Linked DNA regions of Homo sapiens. The protein of the gene in region 2 purifies or fractionates together with the protein of the main gene of each other region. This does not show direct contact. Each region holds a gene or a part of one and is shown on either strand. Other genes may lie near its edges.

Region 1 (6,993 bases), on a different chromosome or scaffold from region 2:
GCACACAGCACCAACTGCCTGCATAGCTAAAGCCTGCCCTCATTCCAGGGCTAAATTTAAAACAAAATTAAATTAAAGGAGCCACTTTTAATGGAACTCCTTCTGAACCACACCACAGGCTCCCACTCGCTTAATTAAATGGAGAATGCAGGGCGAGAGCTTTTCTTGCTGACGGAGGACGTGGTGATTGTCCTGTGAGGCGAGGTGACCAGGTGTGGAGGGACGTGGGCCGTCTGCCAGGGCCGACCCGGGACCCAAGGCCCGACCACGCCTCTGCGTGGAGCACCCTCCCCCTCCACCTGTCAGACGGCTCGCCTGGGTGCTGGGCTCTGTGTCCTGTTTTATAAACAGGTGGACCCGAGGGGGGCTGTTTCCTAATGACCCTCCCCGTCTTTCTTTTCATAAAAAGCCCTTTTTGGGTTCAGGCTGTTCTAGATAGCTGAAATGGTGGAAAATCTGGCTTCTGGCGATTTCTATAGTCACCACAGAAGACTTTGATCTTTAAAAAAGCCCTTTAAACTCCAATGTACGCCCGCGTCACTAGGGATCTTGTTAAAATGCAGATTCTGTCCCAGGTCTGGGTGGAGCCCAGGACTCTGCATTCCAACTAGCCCAGGGCAACCCCAATGCTGCCGGCCCTGGGGCCGCACCCCAGGCTGGGACGTGTCAGGGCCGTGCAGGGCAGGCAGGGAGGCTCTGGGGGCTGAGGGTGGCGCCTCCTCCCTCCACTGCACCAGGGCAAGGTCCTTCAATCCACGGGGCCCCTCTGGACCTGGGCCAGGCCCGTTTACTGCCCTTGGAGGGCACTGAACACGGACCCCCCACTTTCCCAGCAGCAGGGCCAAGCTGACCCTCACAAGGGGTTCACTTTCTGCTGGGCTGGGGCGGCCCCTCTGGAGACAGGCGACCGTGGGGCCTCCCAGGCCCCCTCATCACAAACATCGCTTCCCCCTCCTTAGGAAGCCTGCTTTGGTCTCCCAGAGAAGCCTGTGCTCTGTGAGTCTCTGTGTTAAGATTCGCAGCACTTAATACTCCCCCTTCCCTCCCTGCCTCCTTCCCTCTTTCCTTTTCCTCTATTACCGACCGCACAGCAGCTTCTGTGCCTCCCATCTGCCTGAACTGTGGGGGTGCAGGAGGGGCCCATCTGGATTAAGGTGCCCTGAGGGCAGGCGCCCTCTCCCTCGGTGACAGAGGGATGATTAGGAGCGTGGGAACCTGGGCAAATCGCCGCTCACAGAGCCTCAGTTTCTCATCTGTAAAGGGGGATATGAAAGGCTCTCCCTACCGCGTGTTGTGTGGGCTACGATGACACAGAGGGCCCTGCTCAGGGCAGCACTCGGGGTGGGGGGAGAGCAGGCACCGGCGCTGCCTGATGGTGACAAAGGTGACGATGACATACAGGACCCTGCTCAGGGCAGCACTCGGGGTGGGGGGAGAGCAGGCACCGGCGCTGCCTGATGGTGACGAAGGTGACGATGACGTCCTGCTGTGTCCAGTGCAGGACGGCCTCACTCACCGGTGGGTCTGAGCGCACGGGAGCGCGGATGGAGGGAGGAAGGAAGGGCTCACCTGTCCAGGTGGAAGGCAGCAATCTCCGCATTGTGCCTCTCGTAGTCAGAGAAATAAAAAAAGTCAGGGGGTGTCTCCTGCTCCCTCGTTTGTCTGAGAAAACAAGACAGAAACAGAAACGGTTTGTCACTGAGAAAGCCTCCAGGGGCCGGAGGCAGGCGGGACGTGCTGGGTTCCTCATATGAAAAATGCGGTGGAGCTCCAGCCTCCTCAGGGCCACCCTGAGCCTTCGGGACCCTGGGCACCCAGCTGCCGACGGGCCCTCAGAGCAGCGCAGGCACGTGCGACGGAGGCCGGGGGTCCCAGCTCCCCGTGGCCCTGACCCAGCTGCCGACGGGCCCTCAGAGCAGCGCAGGCCCTTGCGACGGAGGCCGGAGGTCCCAGCTCCCCATGGGCCCTTCTCAGGTAAGCTGCTCAAAGGCCTCTCCTGCACTGGCTGGGGGCCCCGGCACGTCCACCCTGGGACCCACAGTCACACCGCAGGGGAGAGGCTGGGCTCGGTGTCCCAGGCCTGGCTCAGCCCCGGTTTGCTGTGTGCACCCTGGCACCGCCCACCCTCTGGTTTCCGAGTCTCCCCCACGGCCTCCAGGACCCCTTGGCTCTGCCGTGGACGCCTCCCACAGTAAGAGCCCAAGAAGGGCAATGTGGGCACCGCCCTGTCCCTCCACCCTGGCCAAGGGACAGGAGGCCACAGGTGGGGCTGTTTATGAAAGGTCAGTGCCATTCTGTAAACACCATAGGGCTCCTGTATCTCAGGCCAATACTCCAGGGGAAGGGGAGCCTAGCCGCAGGGCCCTGTGAGGTGCCGGTCCACGCAAGTGTTTGACCGATGTGGTCATGGTGGAAACGTGGAGGAATTGTCAAGGTCGTGTCTGAGCATAAGTGTGTAAGCGCGTAAGCGTGTAAGCGTGTAAGCATGCTTCCTCCACCAAGGCCGGCCCCTGCCATGCTTCCCCCACCAAGGCCGGCCCCTGCCTCCACTGGAGGGAGAGCCTGTCCCAGGGCGTCCACCCAGGCCAGGCCCAGGGAGGGAACTCAGCCTCCAACCCAGGCTTCCTCCACCAAGGCTGGCCCCTGCCTCCACTGGAAGGAGAGCCCGTCCCAGGATGTCCTCCCATGCCAGGCCCAGGGAGGGAACTCAGCCCCCAATCCAGGAAGAATTTACCAGATTCAAACTCTGGTGACCTTTCCAGGTGCTGGAAACCAGAGCTGGCGGGAATCCCCAGCTCGCACGCCCTGCAGCCCACACCTCCCACTCAGGGCAGACTGTGTTCCGTCTGGGCTCCAACACTCCAGCAATGCAGACTACAGACGCCGCCCCGGTCACTTTCCCAGCCCTCGGCTTCCCCGGCCGGGTCCTTCCTTCCATATACGCAGCGGAGGTCCGCCCAACTCCTGGGAGCATCCTGGCCCTGCCACGGGCCGACATCATCGCCACACGAACAGCGGGGTGGGGCACAGGTCCTGTATGTCATGTCCACGTCCCTTCGGGGGGACCACGTCTGGGTCACAGGCCGTCAATTACACACCAGCCCGTGGCTCCCGTCCTCCCACGCTGTTCTCAGAAAGCTGTGGCCACAATTCTCCGTGTTCCCGGAACGTTTCTTATGGGGGGTTAAAGATGTGTACCACCCACGGCCTTTTTAAGAACTAGTCTCTGCTGCTAGAAACTCTGAGAACAGACCACTTTCCACGATCCCACATAATATTCGCCTTGACAGGGCCCTGGGTAGGCGCAAGGCCAGATGAGGATTCCAGGAGCTACTTAAAAATAAAATGCGGATGGTGGGCTGGCGCCTGAAGGTCACATTTGCTTCATAACCCCACTGGGTCTGTGGCCATTGCTATCTCTGTGCACTTCTGAAACCAGCAGCAAAGGAGGGTTGGGGTGCAGGGCAGGGCAGTGGCAGGTATGGCGGCAAACTGAACATGCTGCCCGCCAGGGTCGCCCTGCAGAGCCGAGGCCCAGACTGGCCGGGATCCTGAGGTTCAAGAGAAAGAATCTAGACCTTGTGGAATCTCCCGGGTTTTAAGCGCTGGCAAATGGATTTCATTTTTCTAAAACACTAAAGGTCAAACCAAATGGTCCGCTGCAGTCAGCCCGCAGTTCCAGGGGTGGTAAATTCTGGAGTGTTGGATATTTTTGAGGTTAAAAAGCCTTCGTTGTTTTCAACTTGGAAGGATTGGCTTTGAGCAAAACTCATTCCACAGAACACTAGTTCTACTAGATTTTAGTAACTTTCAGCTGGAAAAAGGGAACTCCAGATGGAGGCAAGATTTCTTTTCTGTAAACTTCGAGCCTTACGTCTGCACAGTGACTCCCCAGAACGGCCCAGCATGAGTCCAGGAGTTCAAGACCAGCCTGGGCAACATAGTGAGACCCCAGGTCTACGAAAAATAAAAAAATCAGCTGGGCGTGGTGGCACACACCTGTGATCCCAGCTACGCGGGAGGCTGAGATGGGAGGATCACCTGAGCCCAGGAGGCCAAGGCTGCAGTGACCACTGCAATCCAGCCTGGATGACACAGTGAGACCCTGTCTCCAAATAATAATAATAATAATTATTATTATTATTATTATTATTATTTTCTTTAGAAAATCCTCAGCTACTTATCAGTTGGGCAGTCAGAATTCACTGTAGGCCCCTGGAGCAAAGGCCTGCACCACTGGGTGCCTGATAAAGCCGCTAGGAAACTGAGCTCCTGGGACATCCACTGCAGAGGCGGCGCCCAGGTCTCCTGGGTGGCACAGGTCTCCCGGGTGGCACAGGTCTCCCGGGTGGCACAGGTCTCTTGGGTGGCACAGGTCTCCCGGGTGGCACAGGTCTCCCGGGTGGCACAGGTCTCTTGGGTGGCACAGGTCTCCCGGGTGGCACAGGTCTCCCGGGTGGCACAGGTCTCTTGGGTGGCACAGGTCTCCCGGGTGGCACAGGTCTCCCGGGTGGCACAGGTCTCTTGGGTGGCACAGGTCTCCCGGGTGGCACAGGTCTCCCGGGTGGCACAGGTCTCTTGGGTGGCACAGGTCTCCCGGGTGGCACAGGTCTCTTGGGTGGCACAGGTCTCCCGGGTGGCACAGGTCTCTTGGGTGGCACAGGTCTCCCGGGTGGCACAGGTCTCCTGGTTAGCACAGGTCTCCTGGTGGCACAGGTCTCCCGGGTGGCACAGGTCTCTTGGGTGGCACAGGTCTCCCGGGTGGCACAGGTCTCCCGGGTGGCACAGGTCTCTTGGGTGGCACAGGTCTCCCGGGTGGCACAGGTCTCCCGGGTGGCACAGGTCTCTTGGGTGGCACAGGTCTCCCGGGTGGCACAGGTCTCTTGGGTGGCACAGGTCTCCCGGGTGGCACAGGTCTCTTGGGTGGCACAGGTCTCCCGGGTGGCACAGGTCTCTTGGGTGGCACAGGTCTCCCGGGTGGCACAGGTCTCTTGGGTGGCACAGGTCTCCCGGGTGGCACAGGTCTCCTGGGTGGCACAGGTCTCCTGGTTAGCACAGGTCTCCTGGTGGCACAGGTCTCCCGGGTGGCACAGGTATCCCGGGTGGCACAGGTATCCCGGGTGGCACAGGTTTCTTGTAGGTACTGTCTTGGGGGGCAGCTGTTCTCGCCCTGGCCAGGTCCCCTGGACACACAGCCACTCCACGTCCCTCTGAGCCTGCCCCTTGGTGTGGGCACCTGGAGTCACCTCACCCCCAGCCTGGCCTGTCCATCGGTGCTTCCTCTGTGATGGACGTGACCTTCTGCGCTGTCCAACTCGGCAGCCAGTGGCCACACATGGCTGTGGGACACTCGAAATGTGACCAGAGCCTCCAGAAACTGAGTTTTAAGTCTGATTTTATCTTAAATCTAATGGGCACACCTGGCTAGTGGTGTGCAGTGCAGCTCTGAGAATGGGGCCTTCTGAGGCCTCTGGTGTCTGCCCACTGTCCATCCCGCTCCCTGGCCAGGATGGAGGGGGCCGAGTCCACCCCCTCCCCCAGCTCACTGGCCCTGCCCCCAGTGCACCGAACAGTGCTGTCTCCCCAGCCTGCAGCCCAGCCTGCCCTCCCTTCCCACCCTCCTCCTTCTGCTTTCTCAGTCAGGACTGTCCTGGCCACCGCCTCCAGGAAGACCCTCTGGAATCGTTCCGTCCTGCGGACGCCCCTTGCCCTGTACACACAAGGCCTGCAGAAGGGCATTTGTCAGATCCGCGTCCCCGGACCCACAGACAGCACATCTCCAGGTCTGGGTGTTCATCTTGCTGCTGCCACTGACCCTCGCCAGCCCAGGTTCCAAACCCCAGAGGGAGAAAAAGAGCAGCTGCCTCCCAGAGCTGTTGCGGGACGGGCACACACAGGGCCTGGTACACTGCAGGAGCTCACCGTGTGGTGATGTGGACGTCTCAGTAGCAGGCGAAGTACAATGGGATGTCCCCGCAGAGCTCTCCAGGCCTGCCAGAGCGCAGGGGGCCTCTGGGGACACTGAGGCCCAGGGAGGGGCTGGCCCAGGCAATGTCCACTGAGCGTTGGCATGGGGCTGGGCCTGGATGCTGAGTGGTTTAGTTCTAACCACCCACTACAGTATGCATACGCACGCACACACACAGATGCACATTAACACGTGTGCACATGCACACATGAACACTCATGCACACACACATACCCACTCATGCACACACACACACCTGCACGCTCACAAACGTACACACGGGCACACACACAGATGCACATTCACACGTGTGCACATGCACACACACTCGCTCATGCACACACACCCACCTGCACACTCAGAAACACACACACGGGCGCTCACAGTGGATGCACATTAACACGTGTGCACACACATATGTGCACAGATACATGTGCGTACACACATTCATGCACATGTGCATCCATACACTCGCACACTCACAGATGCACACGTGTGCATGGACATATATGCACACTCGCAGGAGTGCACACACACACACACACACACACAACCCCCACAGAACAGTGCTGTCGGAGGCCTCTTGGTGAGAAGGGGACTAAGACCCGGCTCCATCGATCTTTCCCTGGCACAGCCTTGCAGCGGGGCTGGCTGGGAAAGCGCATTTAGTGGCCCTGAAAAGGCGGAGTCTGATTTCCTCCCTGCAAAGAGACTCAAAGCTCACGCAGAAGACGAACGACTTGCTGACTTGAGTCACCTGCACAAATCCGGTCATTAAAGCACATCCCATCTGGCGGCTCCCATCTGACCCTGTGTTCTGCTCCCGGGCAGAGGGCAGCAGGCAGTGAATTCTACTCTGGGCTCCGCTCCCGAGGCCCTCGGGCCACTTCCTGCCACAGCTGGGCTGAAAGCCCCAGGGAAGGGGCCAGACCCAGGTGACCCCAGCAGGAGGAAGCAGGGAGGGAGCAGCCCCAGGGGCAAGGAAGAAAGCAGCTTCCAACAAACCACCCCTTTAGGACAATTCA
Region 2 (8,560 bases):
CTCATTTAATCCTCACAAAAATCCTGTTTTACATGTTAGAACATTGTAGCAGAGAGAGGCTATGATTTTCATTTTACAGATGAGGAAACTGAGGCACAGAGAAGTTGAGTAGTTTATCCAAGGTCAAGCTAACAAGCAGTGGAGTTGGAGTTTAAATTTAGGATTCTGCCTCCAGAGCTGTGTTCTCACCTGCCATGATATAGAGTTAACCCTTGAATAACAAGAGTTTGAACTGCAGATATTTTTCCATAAATATATTAGAACATTTTTGGAGATTTTCAACAATTGGTAAAAATTGCAGATGAACTGTGTAGCCTAGAAATATCAAAAAACTTAAGAAAAAGTTACATATGTTATGAATGTATAAATATATATATAAACTAGTCTATTTTATTATTTTCTACCATAAAATACACACAAATCTGTTATAAAAAGTTAAAATTTATCAAAATTTACACACCCACAGACCATACATGGTGCCATTCACAGTGAAGAGAAATGTAAACAAATGTAAAGATTCAGTATTAAATCATAACTGCATGAAATTACGTACCCACCTCCTCTTGCCATGGTGGTGAGCTCAAGTGTTGAGAGTATCTGCTTAAAATGCCACCATGTGATGCTAATCATCTCCCCTTGAGTGGTCTGCTTTAACAATAAATTGCATATGGAGATAAAAAGTGATCTCTCTTGAGGCTGCAGTGAGCTGTGAGCATGCCACTGCATTCCAGCTTGGGCAAAAGAGTGAGATTCTGGCTCAAAAAAGAAAAAAAAGCCATCTCTGGTAGTTCTCCTGTACGTTTCACCATGTACATTTCATCGTGTTTAGTGCAATACTGTAAACCATGAATAACACCGTGGGACTCACATGAAGTGCCACTACTGCTGCCAGAAGTGCTCCTAAAAAGCAAAGTCATGACATTCCAACAAAAAGTTGAATTGGTTAATATGTATCATAGATTGAGATCTGCAGCTGTGGTTACCTGCCATTTCAGACAGACGATGTAAAACTTAGAGTACTGATAAATACAGTACAATACTGTAAACGTATTTTATGTTTTTAAATCATTTTTTTGAGACAGGGTCCTACTCTATCACCCAGGCTGACTGGAGTTCAGTGACGCCTTTATGGCTCAAGCAATTCTCCCACCTCAGCCTTCTGAGTAGCTAGGACCACAGGTGCATGCACCATCTTGGCTAATTTTTGTATTTTTCATAAAGACGTTGTTTCAGCATGTTGCCCAGGCTGGTCTCGAATTCCTGGGCTCAAGCTATCCTCCCACCTCAGCCTTCTGAGTAGCTAGGACCACAGGTACATGCACCATCCTGGCTAATTTTTGTATTTTTCATAGAGACGTTGTTTCAGCATGTTGCCCAGGCTGGTCTGGAACTCCTGGGCTCAAGCAATCCTCCCTCCTTGGCCTCCCAAAGTGCTGGGATTACAGGTGTGAGCCACTGCCCCTGGCCTTAAAATCATTTTCTTTTCTGTGGCTTACTTCATTGTAGGAATACAGTATATAAAACATACGACATACAAAATATGTTAATTGATTGTTATCCATAAGACTTCTAGCCAACAGCGGACTATTAGTATAGTCATCCCTCCTCTCTGTATACATGACAGATTGATTCCAGGACCTCCTGCAGATACCAAAGTCTGCACATATTCAAGTCGCGTGCAGTCTATTTTTCAAAACCCACACATACAAAAAGTCAGTCCTCCATGTAAGCGGGTTTTGCATCCTGAGAATACTGTATTTTTGATCCATGTTTGGTGGGAAAAAAAAAACGTGTTTAAGTGGGCTCGTGAAGTTCAAACCCATGTTGTTCAAGGTTGACGTGTAGTTAAGTTTTTGGGGAGTCAAGTTATACCAAATTCTGACTGCATGGGAGATGGGGGGGCGAGTTAGCACCCCTAACCCCCATGTTGTTCAAGGGTCAACTGTATTGCCTCTTCCAATATGTTGTAAGAATAAGTATTGTTTCAGAAAAGATTTACTTCAAGGTATATATGCGTGTGTGCTTGTGTTTGTAATGGGTAGCAATGTAAAATGTATTCATTTTTGTAAGTCACAGACAAAAGTATCTAAAACTGCTACTGCTTTAGCAATAGCATTGCTGAATTGTATATCTTCAACCTTAACAGAGATAATGCCAGATTGCTCTCCAAAATTATTATACCAAATCACACTCTCAACAGCAGTGTGAGATGTTCCATATCTCTCTATATAGAATCTCTCTATATAGAATATCTATATAGATATTCTATATATTATACCTATGTTCCATATCCTCACCTGAACTTAATAGTGCCAGACTTTTAATGTGCTATCGATCCATTTAATGTGCTATCAATACTGGGTGTTGAATAGTATCTTAATGTTGTTTTCAGTTGCGTTTTTCTGATTTCCAGTACATCTTTTCATACATTTGACCATCTAAATTTTGCCTATTGTGAATCATCTGTTTATATCCCTTACTTGTATATTATACAATACAACCCTCACAACAGCTCTCTGAAGGAGCCAGCAGTATAGATGAAGAAACTAAGTCTGGGAGAAATGTTGCTTAAAGTAACCCAGCTAATGAGTTTTTGAGCTGAAATTTGAGTCCAGATGTAGAGGACCCGTAAACCTATGCCTTTTGTTTTACACTACATGCCAGGGCCCAAGGTCATGTTAGAAAAAAAAACAGAGGAAGAGCACAAATAAATTTGAACATGTAACCCTATGTCTTGTGTCTAATTAGGCTTTGTGCAATTAACATAGATTATTTCCTTGCTTCCTCACAACAACCTGTGAGGTAAAACGTGTTATCTCCATTCTACAGATGAGAAAACTAAGGTGTAGGGAAGTGAAGAAATTTGTCTTGGAAGGGTTAAATTACAGCTAGAAATTTGCCTTGGAAAGGTTAAATTACAGCTAGGGACAGAATTGCAACTCAAACACAGATCTGCCTGATTACCAAGTCCACGCCTGTTCCACAGTAATGTCTGTCCATAGATACTCCTGGTGTAAGGTAAAGGCCTCCCACAAATCAAGCCTGACTCATCATCTCCTAGAGCCAGGTCTTGACCTGCTTCCCCAGTTTCTCTCCAGATCCCCATATGTTTCTACTTCGGTACGGCCAGGACTATACCTACTATCTTTCTGCAGAATAATGGTCTGAGGCAGCCTTAAAACTGGCCGAGCCCTGCTGCTTCACATTAACCATCTGGGCTAGGTTAGCTCCCATAGATTACTCTTCCCCTTCCTCAGGCTTCTCTAATGAAGCCCAATAAGGATCTCAACACCTTCCAAGGTAAACCAGAAAATTATAAGTCAGAGTCCTTAAACGTGGCTGCACATTAAAATCACTTGTGAACTTAAAAAAATCCTGATGCACTAGTTACAACCCAGGCCCATTACATCAGAATGGTACCCAGGCATTCATAATAGTTAAAGCTTCCCAGATGATTCCAATCTACAGCCAAGATTGAGAACCACTGTTACGGCATCTTCTTCAAGCTCCAGCAGCCATACTCAGTAGTTTCCACATTTTAGGTTTTCATAGGAACTTCTTGGAGCACTGGTAAAGAGCCAGATTTCTGGACGCCATCCCAGAGAATCCTGGTTCAGACCCAGGAGTCTACATTCTTAATAATCACCCCAGATAGTTTCACTGCAGATTATTAGCAGACAATATTTTGAGAAATGCTGCATTAGAGGCATGGAAGTAGGATGGGAACAGGAGGCCTCTGGCCCTTTAAGGATGGATTAAGGGACTACTTTTAAGGCTGTAGGGGCAAGTAGGATCAGGCTGCTTTTTTTCATTCTAGTGGATAAGTTAAGGAAGTGGGTCCTGAAATGGACCTCTCCTTTTAAGTTACCTGAGCCTCTCAATAGGTACTATCTTGTTCTCAGCCCGGGAGAGCGGGAGGGGCATGCTGCCTTGTCCCACCTTCTGTTTCTGTTTCTTTTGATGCAAAGAGGCCAAGTTATGAGGCAACTTTGGTCCAGGAGATCCTCTTAGAGAAAGCAACATAGGGCCTGCCTGCCTTTCTTTTTCTTGCCCCATCCTTGGTTGTGGAGCCAGGATGCAGTTATCTGCATGAAAGGAAATGGTCAGAGTGACGTCCCTTGGGCTTGTGTTGGGGCCTGTTGTTGAACACTAAGCCTTTCAAGATGGTCCTCCTCAGTATTCTTAGAATTCTTTTTCTTTGTGAACTCGTGCTTTTCATGGAACACAGGGCCCAAATGGCAGAAGGAGGGCAGTCCTCTATTGCCCTTCTGGCTGAGGCCCCTACTTTGCCCCTGATTGAGGAGCTGCTAGAAGAATCCCCTGGCGAACAGCCAAGGAAGCCCCGGCTCCTAGGGCATTCACTGCGGTACATGCTGGAGTTGTACCGGCGTTCAGCTGACTCGCATGGGCACCCTAGAGAGAACCGCACCATTGGGGCCACCATGGTGAGGCTGGTGAAGCCCTTGACCAATGTGGCAAGGCCTCACAGAGGTGAGTTGTTATGCCCCCATACTGCCCTGGAAGGGAGAGAAGTGGAGAGGAGTGTAGAGAAAAGGGAATTGGTGGGTTTACTGTCAGGCTTTGTTGCCTTGTGGGCAGGTTGTTTCTTTAGGCTTGGTTTTCAAAGGATGGCAAGCTTTGGAGAAGCCAGCGCCAAGCCTACTTCCCTTTAGGGCATCAACTTAAGAACAGATTGCCTTGGTGCCTACTGAGAAATCTTTCCCAGGCCCCAGGACAACTGAGTGATGTGCCATCACCTATCTTTCACAGAAACTTTTATTGCTTGTGATAGTTCTGAAAACTGTAGAGACATATCCAGCTATATTCTTGTGGAGGGCTATTTAAGTGGCGTTTTGCTCTTAGAGTACAGCTTGCTGAGTTGGGGAAACTTATAAGGCCTCAGAAAGGACATAAATAAGCTTACATCTGAGGGTCTGTATACCTGGCTCTGTGAACATGTGCTACTGTATTTCTTAATGAAAGCTACTATCTTAACTGTCTTGATGCAATTAGCCTAATTTTAAAACTAAGGCACGGAGAGGTTAAGTAACTTGCAAATGGTACACAGATAGTGGGTCGCAGAGATGGGATTGCAGCTGAAGTCTGTCTGATTCTAAAGTCTGTCGGTAACTTCTTAAGTCTTTAAATGCAGTATTCCAATATCCTTGTACCCCCAATAGTTTTTCTACTTGGGCCATATTGCTACTTTGGGATTCTGGGACTAAGTGTATTTTGGAACTTTTTTTTGTCCCCATCATGCTTGATTTTGCTTTTAACATTTGCATCAGACATTGTTGCAGGACAACAGTGGGCTATTGAAGTGTAGGACTCTCTAGAGAATGCAGACAGTCATCAACTTCAAGGAATTCTTGGGAACCTAGTGAGATCAATCTGTAGCCTTCACTAGTCTGAGATGAAAAGGGACAGGACTTAATCCCCTCCCCAAGCAAAACAATAAATATTCTCGTACCTAACCCTTACTGTGAGATTACTGTGTGCCAGGCATTGCACAAAATGTTTTATAAACATTATCTTAATCCTCACAACTACCAGATTAGGTAGTATTAACATGCCTACTTGATAGGTGAAGAAACTGAGGATCAGAGTCACTTACCCATGTCATACAACCAGTAATTGCTAGAGCCAGGTATCAAACCCAGGCTCTCAGGCCCAAAGCCTGTGTGTTAATCATCTTGCTGTTCTGACTCCCCACTGGATTTTAATTGAGTGCCAGGCAGTGTGTTTGGGTTGGGTATATAGAAGCAAATACTTTTCCGACCTCTAGAAGTTCCCAGTATAGTGGAATGGATAGATAATTACATAATAATGTTACAGTATGCCAAGTGCTTTGGAAAGGACAAACAGTAGGGCTCCCAGGACCTATGAGAAGAAATGGCTCATTTCTTGAAGTGAAGAGACTGTTGGAAGGCCTCATGGAGGAGGTAGTACTTGAAACTGACCTTGCAGAAGGAGCAAAGAGGTCATGCATTGAGGCAGATAAGTGCATTCTGATTTAGGAAAGAGAAAATGGTGTGGGTAGAGATTCATTGAACAAATATTAGGTGCCAAATGTTGGCACCTACTGAGTACTAGGCATACAGATGTGATCAAGATAGGTAAAACCCCTACTTTCATGGAACATATGTTCTCGTAGGGGAGACAAATAAGCACACACAGTTAAATTGTGAATTGTGGTAAGTGCTATCAAAGGATGAAGTAGGTTGTTAAGATAGAGAATGGCAATGAAACCTTCCCTTTCCATGGACTTGTCAGGGAATGTATCTTTGAAGAAGTGCCATTTGAGCTCAGGTCTATAAGATAAACTAGGCATGAGAAGAGTAGGGAGAAGCCTGATTTAGGCAGAGGAACAACAGGTGCAAATGCCTAGAGGGTGAAAACAAGTTGGTTCCAATTGAAGAACAGAGGAAAATCAGTATGGCTGGATCCTCATGAGCATTGTGGGAAATGGCAGGGTATGAGGCTAATGAGAAGCAGGGACTTGTAGGCTGTGATAAGGGATCTGGATCCTAAGAGCAGCAGAAAGTTGCAAAAAATCAAGCACTTTGGGAGGCCAATATGGGAAGATCACTTGAGCCCAGGAGACTGAGACCAGCCTGAGCAACACAGGGAGACATGTCTCTACAAAAAATAAAAATACATTAGCTGGGTGTAGTGGTGCACACCTGTGGTCCCAGCTACTCACGAGGCTGAGACCAGAGGATCATTTGAGCCTGGGAGGTTGAGACTAGAGGAACATTTGAGCCTGGGAGGTTGAGATTGCAGTGAGGCATGATTGTGCCACTGCACTCCAGCCTGGGTGACAGTGAGGCCCTGTCTCAAGGAAAAAAAACAACAACCCCACAAATTAAGAAAAAATTAGGCTTGTACAGATGATGTGAGGCTAGAAAGGAGGATGCCTAGAATTAGACATGTATCCTGGTCTCACTGTGGAATATACTGGTATCTAGGGACTGTGGAAAGGATCCAGAGACAGATGACAGGTTCAATCACACAGGATGTGTGATTCAGCCCTTTCCCTGAAAAGCTTTGACCAGACCCTTCCTGGCTCTGATTCTTAGCAACCCCATCCTGCTTCAGGAAACATGTGATGTCAAGGTCTCAAAGAAAAGGGCAGTTCCTCCCCAGACAGCCTGCTAGAGGTTTGGGTTGAGTTCCTTTATAGCCAGGGTGGAGCAGGTTTAAGGGTGGGCCTCTAAGAAAGATTACTGTAAGATGGGAGTGTGGAATAACTTGAGAAAGCAAATACAAGCCTGGCTTGGATTTGTGTGAATAATGTCTAGTGCGCCAAGCCCAAGGGTATATTAAGCATGAGTTGGAATTTGACCTTTTATTTTACTTATTTTTTTGAGATGGAGTTTCGCTCTTATCATCCAGGCTGGAGTGCAGTGGCACAAACTCGGCTCACTACAACCTCTGCCTCCCGGGTGCACGCCATTCTCCTGCCTCAGCCTCCCGAGTAGCTGGGATTACAGGTGCCTGCCACCACGCCCGGCTAATTTTTTGTATTTTTAGTAGAGGCAGGGTGTCACCATGTTGGCCAGGCTGGTCTCAAACTCCTGACCTCAGGTGATCCGCCCGCCTCAGACTCCCAAAGTGCTGGGATTAGAGGCGTGAGCCACCGCGCCCAGCCGGAATTTGAACTTTTAAAGATATTCTGGGGCTGGGTGCAGTGGCTCAAAGGGCGGCTAATCCCTGCACTTTGGGAGGCCAAAGGGGGCAGATCGCTTGAACCCAGGAGTTCGAGACCAGCCCGGCAACATGGCAAAACCCTGTCTCTACAAAAAACAAAACAGAAAAAGCTGGGCATGTTGGCACATACCTGTAGTCCTTGCTATCCATGGGGGCTGAGGTGAGAGGATCTCTTGAACCTGGGAAGTCAAGGCTGTAGTGAGCCATGATTGTGCCACTGTACTCCAGCCTGGGTGACAGAGGGAGACTCTGGAAAAAAAAATTCTGGAACATCAAGATGTAAAAGAACTTCTGTGTTAAAAATGCCACATCTAATGAAGAATTCCAGGCTTGTGGATTCAGTGGAGAAGAAGGACTAGGTGAATAAATACAAATTAACATGGAATTATTTACTGATAAGATGTCTGAAGATGAGAGGTGGCTTTTTCCTGTGGTGCCAGGCTTTTGTAATCTTTGCTCTTGACCTTCGCCGGGAGGGGGTGCAGAAGTTTGGAGCACCATGGATGTAACCTTTCAATCCTTTGGCCGTTGAGTGTCAGCACTACAGTTTGGATTAAAGCTCTTATTCACAAAGCAGCATCCAGCTTTTAGTAGACTTCTCAGCAAACAAAATATTTATGTGATCAAGACTGTGTTGAAAATAGTATATAGAGGAATAGTGGTAAAATGAATGGGGTAAATGGAGAACAATTTCCAGCAAGGAGTGGTAAAGAGAGAGATTAAGGGCCAAAGGAGGAAAAGATGCTTAAGAAGCAATTCTTGAAGTAGATGGAAGGCAGAAGTGGTAAGATAGCTGTCTGTACTAGAGGATGATAGACAAAATTATTTTGTAGTGCCTTGGTCCTGAGTT
Region 3 (4,698 bases), on a different chromosome or scaffold from region 2:
GGGGTTTCACCTTGTTAGCCAGGATGGTCTTGATCTCCTGACCTTGTGATCCTCCTGCCTCCCAGAGTGCTGGGATTACAGGCGTGAGCCACTGCGCCCGGCCAAAGCCCTATTTTTATAGGTAGTGGATGAAGAAGAGTCCTTCCCCTATCCCCTATGTGAGTCAGGCATTGTCAGAGAGATTATGGAAGGTTGAAGAAAGTAAACCTATAAAGTTTTATATGAACACTCCTTAGCCATTTTGCATGGATCTGACCCTAAACAGCACATCAGAGGCTTTGAAAACTAGAATACACAATAGACTGCCTCTCCAGGGCCAGCCTGGCCATTGGGTGGCAAATAAGTGGGGCAGATGCAAATAACATAGCAAAGGAGTTCATAACAAACCTGACACTGGAACCATAACACAACCTAGAAACATTGAGTAAAAACTTGAAGCCTAAACCAAACCAGATTGTCTGCTGAAAGTTTTTAAAAATCAAGACCTAGAATGATGTAACATGTCAAAATATCCAGGATGCCATCCTAAATTAGTCAACATACTCAAAACCAGGAAAATCTTAACATCTCAAAGGAAAAGACAGCAGACACCAACCTCAAGGTGACATGGACCAAGACTTTAAAGTATCTGTGCTACAAGTTGTAAGGGTGAATACTTTGTTTTAAGAGAGGGTCTTGCTCTGTTACCCTGGCTGGAGTGTAGCGGTGTGATCATGGTTCACTGCACCCTCCATCTCCTGGGCTCAAGCAAACTTCCCACATCAGCCTACCGAGTAGCTGGGACTACAGACCTGCACCACCACTCCCAGCTGCCTTTTTTCTTTTTAAGAGACTGGCTATTGCTATGTTGCCCAGGCTGGTCTTGAACTTCTGGTCTCGTGATCCTTCCTTCTTGGCCTCTGAACCACAGTGCCTGGCCACAACAGCCTTTAAAAAAAGAGAAAACAAAAATAAGAAAGGAAAAGACTGTTACACTGTTTAGTTCAGCCATGGAACGTGTTTAAAAGTCTTAATAGAAATGGTGAATATAACTGAGAAAGGGAGGGTGGGATTTGTTAGTGCGTCCAGTGGGTAAAAAGGAGTATGTGCAAGAATAAGTTATAGTGGGAAGTCAGTAGGTGATGACTTAAGCAGGTAGCATTATTGATGGACCTGAATTAGATAAGCTCTTTAAAAATCTGAAATTGTAATGTTTCTAATACTTAAATCATAGTGGATATTTTTATTTACCTTCATATTCAGGAATGGGAGTCTTAATAGTAGATAATTTTTGCAAGGATTTTGTAAATTTATCTTAGTCAAGTGAAGCAGGATTTCATTCCCACGAGTAGTTTGTTTATTTTTTTGAGATGGAGATTCACTTTTGTCGCCCAGGCTGGAATGCAGTGGTGCGATCTCGGCTCACTGCAATCTCCATCTCCCGCATTCAGTCTCCTGCCTCAGCCTCCAGAGTAGCTGGGATTATAGACGCCCACCACTACGCCCAGCTAATTTTTTGTGTTTTTAGTAGAGATGGGGTTTCACCATGTTGGCCAGGCTGGTCTCAAACTCCTGACCTCAGGTGATCCATGCGCCTCGGCTGCCCAAAGTGGTGGGATTACAGGCATGAGCCATTGTGCCTGGCCAAGTTTTTGTTGTTTTTGTTTTGTTTGTTTGTTTTTGAGACGGAGTCTCCCTCTGTTGCCCAGGCTGGTATGCAGTGGCAAGATCTCAGCTCACTGCAACCTCCACCTTCAGGGTTCAAGTGATTCTTCTGTCTCAGCCTCCCGAGTAGCTGGGATTACAGGCGTGTGCCACCACACAAGCCAGGGGTAATTTCAAGGGTTGTCACAGTATATATCCCACATATGTATTCTTTCCATATATGAACAAATTGTTAGCACCCTTTTTAAAGAACCTTAAAACTTTTTAGTAGCTCTTTTAAAAAAGTTGCTTAGTCATGTTATAGTCTAATACAGGAACTCAGCTCTGTAATCATTAGCAAGCCTTTCACATTAAAGATTTTTGGATGGGTATTGGTACGCAGATGGGTCAGTAACAGTTTCTTGTAGCAAAATGGTGAGACAGGCACAAAATTCTACCAGGCATGTTTGGTGTTGTGTTTGCTTTTTAATACAAACGAATAAAAACATTTTGCTGTTGGATTTCGCTCAAAAGGTCTTATCTGGTTAACAAAAGATTTGCCGGCTGGGCACGGTGGCTCATGCCTGTAATCCCAGCACTTTGGGAGGCCGAGGCAGGCGGATCACCTGAGGTCAGTAGTATGAGACCAGCCTGGCCAACATGGTGAAACCCTGTCGCCACTAAAAATACAAAAATTAGCCAGGTGTGGTGGCACGTGCCTGTAATCCCAGCTGCTTGGGAGGTGGAGGTTGCAGTGAGCAGAGATCATGCCACTGGACTCCAGCCTGGGTGACAGAGCAAGACTCAGTCTCAAAAAAAAAAAAAAAAAGATTTGCCATTTTTATGAGTGTAGAGCAATGGCCTGTCAGATATCATAAGGCTTAAAAATTTTTCTTCTTTTTTTAAAGACCAGGGTATTACTCTATCGCCCAGCCTGGTCTCAAACTCCTGAGCTTAAGCCATCCCAATCCCAAAGTGCTAGGATTACAGGCGATTCTCCTGCCTCAGCCTCAGCCTCCTGAGTAGCTGAGATTATAAGCACCTGCCACCACGCCCGGCTAATTTTTGTATTTTTAGTAGAAACAGGGTTTCACCATGTTGGTCAGGCTGGTCTCAAACTCCTGACCTCAAGTGATCCACCGCCTTGGCCTCCCAAAGTGCTGGGATTACAGGCGTGAACCACCACGCCTGGCCTAAAAAATATTTCTGGCAAACAGCTGGGCATGGTGGCACATGCCTGTGGTTCTAGCTACCTGAGAGACTAAGGCAAGAGAATTGCTTGAGCCTGGGAGGTCAAGGCCGAAGTGAGCTGTGATTGCACCACTGCACTTCAACCTGGGCGACAGAGTGAGACCCTGTCTCAAAAAATAATATCTGTCATGTTAAGCTGTTCCATGGAATTACATTGTCTTTTTATAATGGGCACACTAATGAAAGAATGAACACTTTCCTAATTCTATTCTCAGGCAAATTAAGACTAGTTTCTTCATGTCCATATGACCTTCATTGCTATGGTTGCTTGTACTGCACATTTCCTGTTAAACGGGCTTTCTCATTGCATTTGGAGAGCTGCGTAGTATTCCCAAAATCTTCTAGGTATGCTTGTAATTGGCAGTCATTCCAGTTTTTTGTGAGTGCTATAAGAGTAACATCACTCACTGTGTCCCGACAGACAGGCTTTTAAATTTCTATGCCAATTAGATTGGTAAAATTATGCTCTTCTTTTTTTTTAAGTGTTTCTTAAGGTTAAAAATCTGCACATTTTATAGACAAAGTATCCCATTGAATTTCTGTAATCATTGATTAGTTAATGGTTTACCTTGGTTTATGGACCTTTGAACATTTTTTTGCCTATTTTTCTTTAAGTAATTTGTAAATACATAGTATAATGACCAATTTTTGTTTCATATATAGCATAATATACCTATCATTTATCTGGGTGTGTCAATATAGATTATTTTGAAAGAAACTAAAAGTTGGTGTACAATATTAATTAAAAATGTGGTCTTCATGAGAAAAAGTGTGAGCTTTGTAATTTTTATGAGTAGGTGGGTACTATTGTGGATTAATCGTAACTTTTTTGTTAAATGATAGATCTGAGTGGGACATACTTTTGAAGGATGTGCAATGTTCAATCATAAGTGTGACAAAAACTGACAAGCAGGAAGCTTATGTACTCAGGTAAGTCCTGTAAAACAAGTGTTAGGTAGCTAATTTCAGTCCTAATCATAATGTGAAACAGTTAAGTTCCTCTCAGTTGTAGTTCTGGGGGTTTTTTTGTTTTGTTTTGTTTTTTTGAGACGGAGTTTCAGTCACCCAGGCTGGAGTGCAATGGCGCCATGTCAGCTCACTGCAACCTCCGCCTCCTTGGTTCAAGCAATTCTCCGGCCTAAGCCTCCTGAGGAGCTGGGATTACAGGCACCTTCCATCATGCCCGGCTAATTTTTGTATTTTTAGTAGAGACGGGGTTTCACCATGTTGGCCAGGCTGGTCTTGAACTCCTGACCTCAGGTGATCCATCCACCTCGGCCTCCCAAAGTGCTGGGATTATACACGTGAGCCACCGCGCCCAGCCTTTTTTTTACATTATTCTTAAAAATATGGTATAAAAGGAAACATTTAGTGTAACGTGGATGTTTCTAGGACATAGGTTTTGAAGCCTCACCGGACAGTTCAAGGTGTTTGCCGTCTTTTCCTCCCAATTGGTAAAGAAGGACCTCTTAATTAGAAGTTCAGGCAAAGGGAAAGTTAGCTTCTCTATACAAATACAGTTGTCTAATTGGTATATAAAAGCTCATCACCTTTTTTGTAGTTGCAGAGTTAATTTATTCCATAAATACTTTTAATGCTTATAGTATATATTGTGATGGGCCTTGCTGGGGGATACTGGACTAAACAGCCCCTCCCCCCCTTTTTTTTTCTGAGGCGGAGTCTCAGTCTGTCCAGGCTGGAGTGCATTGGCGCAATCTCCTCTCACTGCAACCTCTGCCGCCCAGGTTCAAGCGATTTTCTTGCCTCAGCCTCCCAAGTAGCTGGTATTACAGGCGCCTGCCACTGTGCCCGGCTAATTTTTGT
Region 4 (7,873 bases), on a different chromosome or scaffold from region 2:
AGGTACTGCTACTTTCTCTACTGATATATTTTAAGGTCTCTATTCCAGATTTTAGTCTTGAACTTCATGGTATTACTTGAAGTTCACTGGTCTTTTCCTTAAATCATACTCTCAAATTGGCCCAGGCACAAAGTTTTAGGGTGGTGGGAGGGAACTGGGAAGTGCCTCCCACCCCAGCTTCCCATGAAGCTTACCTGTCACCTTAAAGTTAAAAAGCTATGTAGCTTTCCTTTTTCACCGTTGAATGGAGAACTTGGTCGAGTCTTAGAAGTTTGATTAATATTTCAGATTCAGAGTCATAGTGACTTTTTTGTTGTTGTTCATACATCTTACTGAACATTGTAAACCTTTAACCTTTTCTTAAAAATGATTGGTGTTTGCACCAAATACACCTTCCCTGCCTCAAGTTACTAAAAGCCCCTTGTCAGACGTCCTGTTCACTTCCCTCCATCTCGGCCCCCCCAACCCCGTGAACTTTTACTCCCTCTTCCCTACCCTGTACCTCTCCCTGGCAGTGTCTGGTTTGGCACATGACCCCTGAGGACATCTGGAGATTCTGCGCCCCCTGGGACAAACAGGGCCTAGGTTATTAAGCAGGTGAAACTGGGCTCTAAGAAATGCGTAATATATATGGTTTGAGATTAAAACTAGGTGCATTTTATGTGATCTAAAAAGTTTATTGATTTTATTTCTTTAAAATGCATTACTTTTTTTGTTTGATTTTGCATATGCTAAGCAAGTGACAGTTCAGCCTTACTCAAGTGTGATTTCTGTCGCAAGTAAAGCAAAACTTGTTTGGGAGTAGGAAAGTGAGAGGGCTTAATGCTTGCCTTAATTTCTGTTAACTCTTTATTTTGTTTTTTGGAGACAGGGTCTCACTTTGTAGCCCAGGCTGGATGGAGTGCAGTGGTGCGATCTGGGCTCACTGCAACCTCTGCCTCCTAGGCTCAAGCGATTCGCCCACCTCAGTCTCTGAAGTAGCTAGGACCACACACACGCGTGCACCACCACACCAGGCTAATTTTTGTATTGTTGTAGGGGATTTCGCCATGTTGCCCAGGCTGGTCTTGAACTCCTGGGCTCAAGTGGTCTGCCCACGTCAGTCTCCCAAGGTGCTGAGATTATAGGCGTGAGCCACCGCACCTGCCTGGTTTCTTTACTTAAAAAAAAAAAAATTATTGATAAGCTGAATGAATTAAAATTTAAGTATAACTAAGGTAGTATATTTTAAATGTGACTGTACACATATGAAAATAGTATTCTTTCTTTAAAAAAAATCTTGGGCCGGGTGTTGTGGCTCATGCCTATAATTCCAGCACTTTGGGAGGCCAAGGTGGACAGATCACTTGAGGTCAGGAGTTTGAGACCAGCCTGGCCAACACAGTGAAACCCCGTCTCTGCTAAAAATACAGAAGTTAGCCGGGCGTGGTGGCACATGCATGTAATCCCAGCTACCTGGGAGGCTGAGGCAGGAGAATCACTTGAACCCGGGTGGTGGAGGTTGCAGTGAGTGGAGATCGTGCCATTGCCCTCCAGCCTGGACAATAGAACAAGGCTCCATCTCAAAAAAAAAAAAAAAAAAAAAAAATCTTGACAAATACTTTGTTCTCTGAATTAAACTGATGGGAACTTTTTGCAGTTTTAAATCCCTATTTTAAGTTAAATTTTGAGTAAATCCAAAAGTTTGGTATTTCGAGTTGTCGTGGTTTCTTTTGTAACATTGCTTTGTGGTAATTATCTGCATGTGTTTTGGTTATTCTGTGTATTCAGAGCTGTCTATTTTAATCCATGTATGCTTTGGCCATAGTAACCCATCCAGATTAACACATTTATAAGTCACCATCGATTTGTCCCATAGTTGTGATACCGTTGCTTTGTATTAACACCAGAGAGTCAGTGATGATGAAGGGAAGTGTAGTCGTTAGTCACCAGGGATTGCTGAGCAGCAAGGATCAAGAAGCTGGTCATGCCCAAACGCAACCTTGAGGGAGAGATGTTGGTGAGAGATAAGAGATGGGTGGCTGGGTACGGTGACTCACACCTGTAACCCCAGCACTCTGGGAGGCTGAGGCGGGTGGATCACTTGAGGTCAGGAGTTTGAGACTAGCCTGGCCAATATGGCGAAACCCCATCTCTACTAAAAATACAAAAATTAGCCAGGCGTGGCAGGGCCGGCCTGTAATTCCAGCTCCTCAGGAGACTGAGACAGGAGGATTGCTTAAACCTGGGAGGTGGAGGTTGCAGTGAGGCGAGATGGTGCCATTGCACTCCAGCCTGGGCGTCAGAGCGAGACTCCGTCTCAAAAAAAAAAAAAAAAGGAGAGAGATGGCCGGGCGCAGTGGCTCACGCTTGTAATCCCAGCACTTTGGGAGGCCGAGGCAGGCAGATCACAAGGTCAGGAGATCGAGACCATCCTGGCTAACACGGTGAAACCCCGTCTCTACTAAAAATACAAAAATTAGCCGGGTGTGATGGCGGGCGCCTGCAGTCCCAGCTACTTGGGAGGCTGAGGCAGGAGAATGGCATGAACCCGGGAGGCAGAGCTTGCAGTGAGCCGAGATCGTGCCACTGCACTCCAGCCTGGGCGACAGAGCAAGACTTTGTCTCAAAAAAAAAAAGAGAGATGGGCAGTTCACAGGGGTTTTTATCGTGCACTGCTGCTCAGGCTGTAGAACTTAAGGTATAGCAGATTTTGTTTGTTTAGATTTGTGGCTTGTGAGGCATTTTGTTCTTGAAGGTTTTGTTCTGGGCCAAGTTCAGCTCTGTAGAGCTTTACTACAGCCCTGCACTCTGGCCGTCTTTCTGCCCTCTCTGCAATGGGTAAGGAGAAGGAGCCTTAGAGATTAAGGCCTGGGTCCTCTCCTGACTTCAGTGGGGTGATGCCCAGTGCACAGGAAGTGGTGCAGGGCTAGGAGTAGGCACTCCTGACTTTGGAGGTCATGAAGTGAGTGACATAGAAAAGCCTTTGGTTTTTGTTTTGATTTCTGTTTTGTTTTTAAAACTAATAGTTTTGGGCTGGGGAATCAGAATCAACCTATGGTGAAAGTGCTGGCCTATGTAAAATTTGATGCGCACCCCACCCCCCTTTTTTTTTTAAAAGAATTGGGTTTAGCTATGGGTCAGGTCATTTTGCTAAGAGTTGTGATTCCACTGGGTCATCAGACTTCCCATCCCCCTGCAGGTAGGAGTAGAGCTGAGCTCACAAGGAAGTTATTAAGTGTCCTGCTGATGAGCAGGTGTATAAGCAGCAGTCAGTGGTGACTTGCATCTCCTCCCTTTGCTGGAAGGTGGGACTAGGTGAGTTTATATGCTGAGTTGACCAAGAGTTAAAATAGTAAAACCAGGGGGCTTCCAGCAGGAAGCAAGTAGAAAAGTTGTTTGTTAGCTTCTAATTCCACGATGTTGCGGTTCTAAACGGTGGCTCCTTTCTGGAAATTGTTAACTGTTGTGCAGATTTTTTCTGCATGTTATGGAATCACCTTCACCCAGCCCCTGCTCCCTCTCCTGGAACGTACTTCATTCAGCATGTGATGTGTTTTGCAATGTCACATGGTATTTCATCCTTTGCTTCTCTCTCTGGTAGACTGAGCTCCTCAAGCTTGAAGGCTGGCTGTCCCCCTTCCCACCCCAGCCCTTGTAGAGGACCCAGCACGAAGGTCATGATAGGTAACAGTTGCTGAGTGGTCATTCTGTGCTAGAGATTGCTCGCAGTGCTTTTCCTATGTCAGTGAATCTTCACACCACCGAAGAAGGAAGGAAATACTGTTCTTCCCAGTCTCAGATGCAGAATCCGAGGCGTGGGAGCAATTAACCTGGGTCACAAAGCGAGTGTATGGCAGGGCCAGGGTTTGGAGCCACGCCGACTGGCCGCAGAGCCGTGGAGCGCTGTACTGCTTCAGCGACCATTTGCAGCCAGCACAGTACTGATGAAGCCCCACTGTGGCATGCGGCCGTCCAGCCTTGGGATGGAGCTGTTCTTCTAAAGCTCGGTGAAAATCTTACTACCAAGAGGCGTGTGAAAATGCTTTTGAAGGCAAATGAAAATGGAATGCCTTTAAAGGAAGTCTGTGTCAAAATGATAGAAGATTAGTAACAAGGATTCAAGAATAGCATCACTTTCCAACCAATTCTCAAACTATTTGAAGAGTAGATACCACAGAGACAGTAAGTAAGTGAAACACCTGCACGTCAAGCAAGTGCTGCAGCACCTTTGCCTGTGATGTCACTTTCCACATGACTGCAACCTGCTTACCTGCAGGGAAGCTATGGGTCTTGCTCCTTTATATATTACACTAATTGCTCCTATGGAGAAACCGTGGGGAGGGGTTGGGGGAGGAGGGTCTTATATTGAACCTGGTTTTATATAGCTTTATAGCTTGATAACAGCTGGTTCCTTTCTTCTCAGAATTTGTAGTTTTAAGTGTATTGGGGTTTTATTTGTTGATTTTGCTTTAATCAGTTTCTTAATCCATGATCTGTTGCTTTGAATTAGACATTAACCTGTTTCTAAAGAGATAGACTAAACAAAACTAAAGGTTTGTTTGCTTAAGTCAAGCTTGAGTCTGGGGAGTTATGTAAGTAACATAGATATCTGGTTAATCTGGTAGGATAGCCTTTCCAAGGGAGTTTACATTGGTACTTTGAAAGAAACATTTTAAGTCGCAGAAAGGTAACAAAAATTAAGTTAACTGTAGCATCAGCACCAGAAAGTTACTGTTTCATTGAATGTAAGATAATGTCTGGCTCGGTGGCTCACGCCTGTAGTCTCAGCACTTCAGGAGGCCAAGATGGCAGGATCCCTTGAGCCCAGCAATTTGAGACCAGCCTGGGCAACATAGTGAGATCTTGTCTCTACCAAAAAAAAAAAAAAAAGAAAGAAATTCGGGACGTTTGCCAGGTATGGTAGTACACACCTGTAGTCCCAGCTACTCAGGAGGCTGAGGTGGGGGCATCGCTTGAGCCAGGGAGGTTGAGGCTGCAATGAGCTATGATTGCACCACTGCACTCCAGCCTGGGCAATAGAGTGAGACCTTGTCTCAGAAAAAAGAAAAAATAATAATAATTATATATGTATATATATAATCTTTGAAATTAGGTGTGTCTTTTATATATAATCTCCTATAATGTCTTTTATATGTATATATAAAATCTACATCTAATTTCAGAGATACTAAGATGTGGGGAAATGTACTTAGAATCAATGAAATACGGTGTTGGTGAATGCAAAACTTGTCAGTCATATTTATTGATTTCTTCTGTGTACAGATAATGGGCATTTGGTATTTATTCATTTATATTTTTTTTTTGGTCTTAATGGGACATGGTGTCTGCTTATTTGAATTATTTCCGGTCTGATTTCTATATTCCATTGTAGAATTTTCATTTACTTAATATTTATATCTGTGCCATTGAAGAGAACCTTCAGGAAAGCATCCTCTGGGGAAGGCCATCAAACAAGCAAACAGTCTAGTAATATTTTGCAGTTTGACTTATGAGAGCTTCATAGGAAGCCTCTGCCTTTAGGAAGTCAGTTGTATGCCTTAAGATTCACAGACTCGCCGGGCGCAGTGGTTCACGCCTGTAATCCCAGCACTTTGGGAGGCCGAGGCGGGCGGATCACGAGGTCAGGAGATCGAGACCATCCTGGCTAACAGGGTGAAACCCCGTCTCTACTAAAAAAAATACAAAAAATCAGCTGGGTGTGGTCGCGGGCACCTGTAGTCCCAGCTACTGGGGAGGCTGAGGCAGGAGAATGGCATGAACCCAGGAGGCGGAGCTTGCAGTGAGCGGAGATCACGCCACTGCACCTCCAGCCTGGGCAGCAGAGCGAGACTCCATATCAAAAAAAAAAAAAAAAGATTCACAGACTCATCATGCTTAGTACAGCCACATCTTAACGCTCAGGAGGCTGGCCTGGTCATCGTTACATCGTGAAGTTAAGTTTACAAGATATGTGGTGGTATTGAATCATACCTGGTGATTTTCCACGTTCCCTGATTTTAAGCAGTCTGCTGTTCTGATGGGAAGTTCCAGGTTGGGTTTGTGTCTGCTGTTTTCAACTCTGAGGGCCCCTTTCTGAGCTTCAGCTCGCTTATCTAGAAGTTAAATCAGAAGCTTTTTGTTAAGATCAAACAATGTGCAGTGCTGTTGCAACTTGAAAAGTGCTTTTCAAGTATTAGATACAACTGTTAATTCTCTTGTATTTTAAAGTATTGGGGCTTGGTTTTAGCTATATTTAAACACAAAAATAGCAGTTTCTTGTTTTTCCTTACCTGCTTCATGTCCATCTACCCAGATCCCTTCCACTGGGCCTGGCCTCTTAATGTTTACGTTATTATTCAGTGATTATTCCCATCCCTTGATCTTTGCTCCTGTTTCTTTCTTTGCCTAGAGTATTTATTTTGCTTCCTGTCCATTCCCTAAGCCCTGCTGATCCTTCTAAATCCACCTCCAATCCCACTTGGCGAGTCCCTGCTCCAGCTCCCCTCAGCGTTCAGTGTCGTCTTAGACTCCAGATTTCCCTTTCACACTGTGTTCCATGTTGTTTAGCAATTGGCTGTGTCCTGCTTGTGGTTCCCTTATTTTATCACATGTATTATTAGGCTCGTCTCTCCCACTGGATGTCAGTCAGCATATGGAATGTCATGATATTACCAGGTGATGGAGAGGAATTGTGCACGTGGAATTTGGTACACATCCCTTTTTCACCCTCTTCAGGCTTTGTGTTAACTTGGGAAGTTACTTACTCTTTTCTCATCTGTTAAACGGGTACTATTACTTGTGACCATTACAGGGTTGCTGTGAAGATTCCAGAAAATGTATGGAAAGCTCTGACAAACAAACACGTTAACTGGTAACTGTTCAGAGGCTGTTGTCTTAAGAGACCCTCTTGCATAGGAAAATAGCTGACTCTGTCACTTCAGGGAGCCAGTTTAAGAAAAATGAAGGGTAATGCAGGGGCCAGCTTTCAGCTTGGCACATCTGAAAAGTTCACGACAGCATACCAAAGGGCTGCTAGTGCTGGCTGTTGGAAATAGAAATGCAGTTCTTGCCTTCAGGAAACGCTGTTTGGACACAGACAAGCAGGTGGGTCCTTGCACCATGGCTGGACCAGAGCACACTGAGGCAATGTGAAGAAGTACCCAGTACACAGACTTGGGTAGGGAGTGGAGGGGAGGACATCAGGGTATAAGAAGAGGGAGGAAGGGAAGGGGAGGAGAATGTTCCAGGTGGAGAGTGCTTGGTGTGGAGGTTGGACAGAGCATGGTATGTTCTGAGAGGTCAGTGCTTGGCATGGTCCTCTGGCAGAAAAGGGAGTGGCTGTGATGAGCAGGAGGCTGGCTGGGGCCACAGGATGATGAATAAAGGACTTGAATCGTGTGCTCAGGACTCTGAGTGATTGTGAGCTTTTCAGATCCTAAGCGGAGGAGCGACATCAGCTTTGTTTTTAACAAGGTCACTCTGCCCTTTGGAGAGTGGATGGTGGTGGGTAAGAATGGAGATAGGAAGTTACTGCAATAATAAAGATTGGGAAAATGGGCTTACTCTAGTTTCGGGGTGGCCAAGCTTTTTTGTAAAGGGCCAAATGGTAAGTATCTTAGACTTTCAGGCCATCCTGTCCCTGTTGCAACGACTGAATTCAACTCTGCCTTTAGCAGGAAGACAGCCATAGACCCTGCAGAGATGGATGGGCGTGGCTCTGTGCCCTGCTTCCACAGGAGCATGCCTACAGAAAACAGGCAGCTGGCCAGATGTCGCCCAGGTTGTGGTTTGCTAAACCCTGACCTAGAGTTGGTTTGCAAAGTCTTTTGGTGCTGGAATAATTTTATACTCTTAATAGTTATATTGAGGATCCAGAGAGCCTTTGTTTGTG

Evidence for each region.
Region 1: the proteins of BMP15 (region 2) and FAM20C purify together in Homo sapiens (co-immunoprecipitation; one large-scale study listed by IntAct). This does not show direct contact.
Region 3: the proteins of BMP15 (region 2) and AMD1 purify together in Homo sapiens (affinity purification with mass spectrometry; 3 studies listed by BioGRID and IntAct, with this or other methods). This does not show direct contact.
Region 4: the proteins of BMP15 (region 2) and PPP2R2D purify together in Homo sapiens (affinity purification with mass spectrometry, with the first as the bait; one large-scale study listed by BioGRID). This does not show direct contact.

Annotation. Positions count from the first base shown.
Region 1 is NC_000007.14:241,084-248,076, reverse strand, and holds part of FAM20C (extracellular serine/threonine protein kinase FAM20C precursor), read right to left. Parts: intron 1,663-6,993; coding exon 1,570-1,662; intron 1-1,569. UniProt on the Homo sapiens protein: Golgi serine/threonine protein kinase that phosphorylates secretory pathway proteins within Ser-x-Glu/pSer motifs and plays a key role in biomineralization of bones and teeth.
Region 2 is NC_000023.11:50,906,621-50,915,180, forward strand, and holds the start of BMP15 (bone morphogenetic protein 15 preproprotein), read left to right. Parts: upstream 1-4,114; 5' UTR 4,115-4,163; coding exon 4,164-4,491; intron 4,492-8,560. UniProt on the Homo sapiens protein: May be involved in follicular development. Oocyte-specific growth/differentiation factor that stimulates folliculogenesis and granulosa cell (GC) growth.
Region 3 is NC_000006.12:110,883,788-110,888,485, forward strand, and holds part of AMD1 (S-adenosylmethionine decarboxylase proenzyme), read left to right. Parts: intron 1-3,717; coding exon 3,718-3,804; intron 3,805-4,548; exon of another isoform or gene 4,549-4,619; intron 4,620-4,698.
Region 4 is NC_000010.11:131,901,903-131,909,775, forward strand, and holds part of PPP2R2D (serine/threonine-protein phosphatase 2A 55 kDa regulatory subunit B delta isoform), read left to right. Parts: intron 1-7,873. UniProt on the Homo sapiens protein: Substrate-recognition subunit of protein phosphatase 2A (PP2A) that plays a key role in cell cycle by controlling mitosis entry and exit. Involved in chromosome clustering during late mitosis by mediating dephosphorylation of MKI67.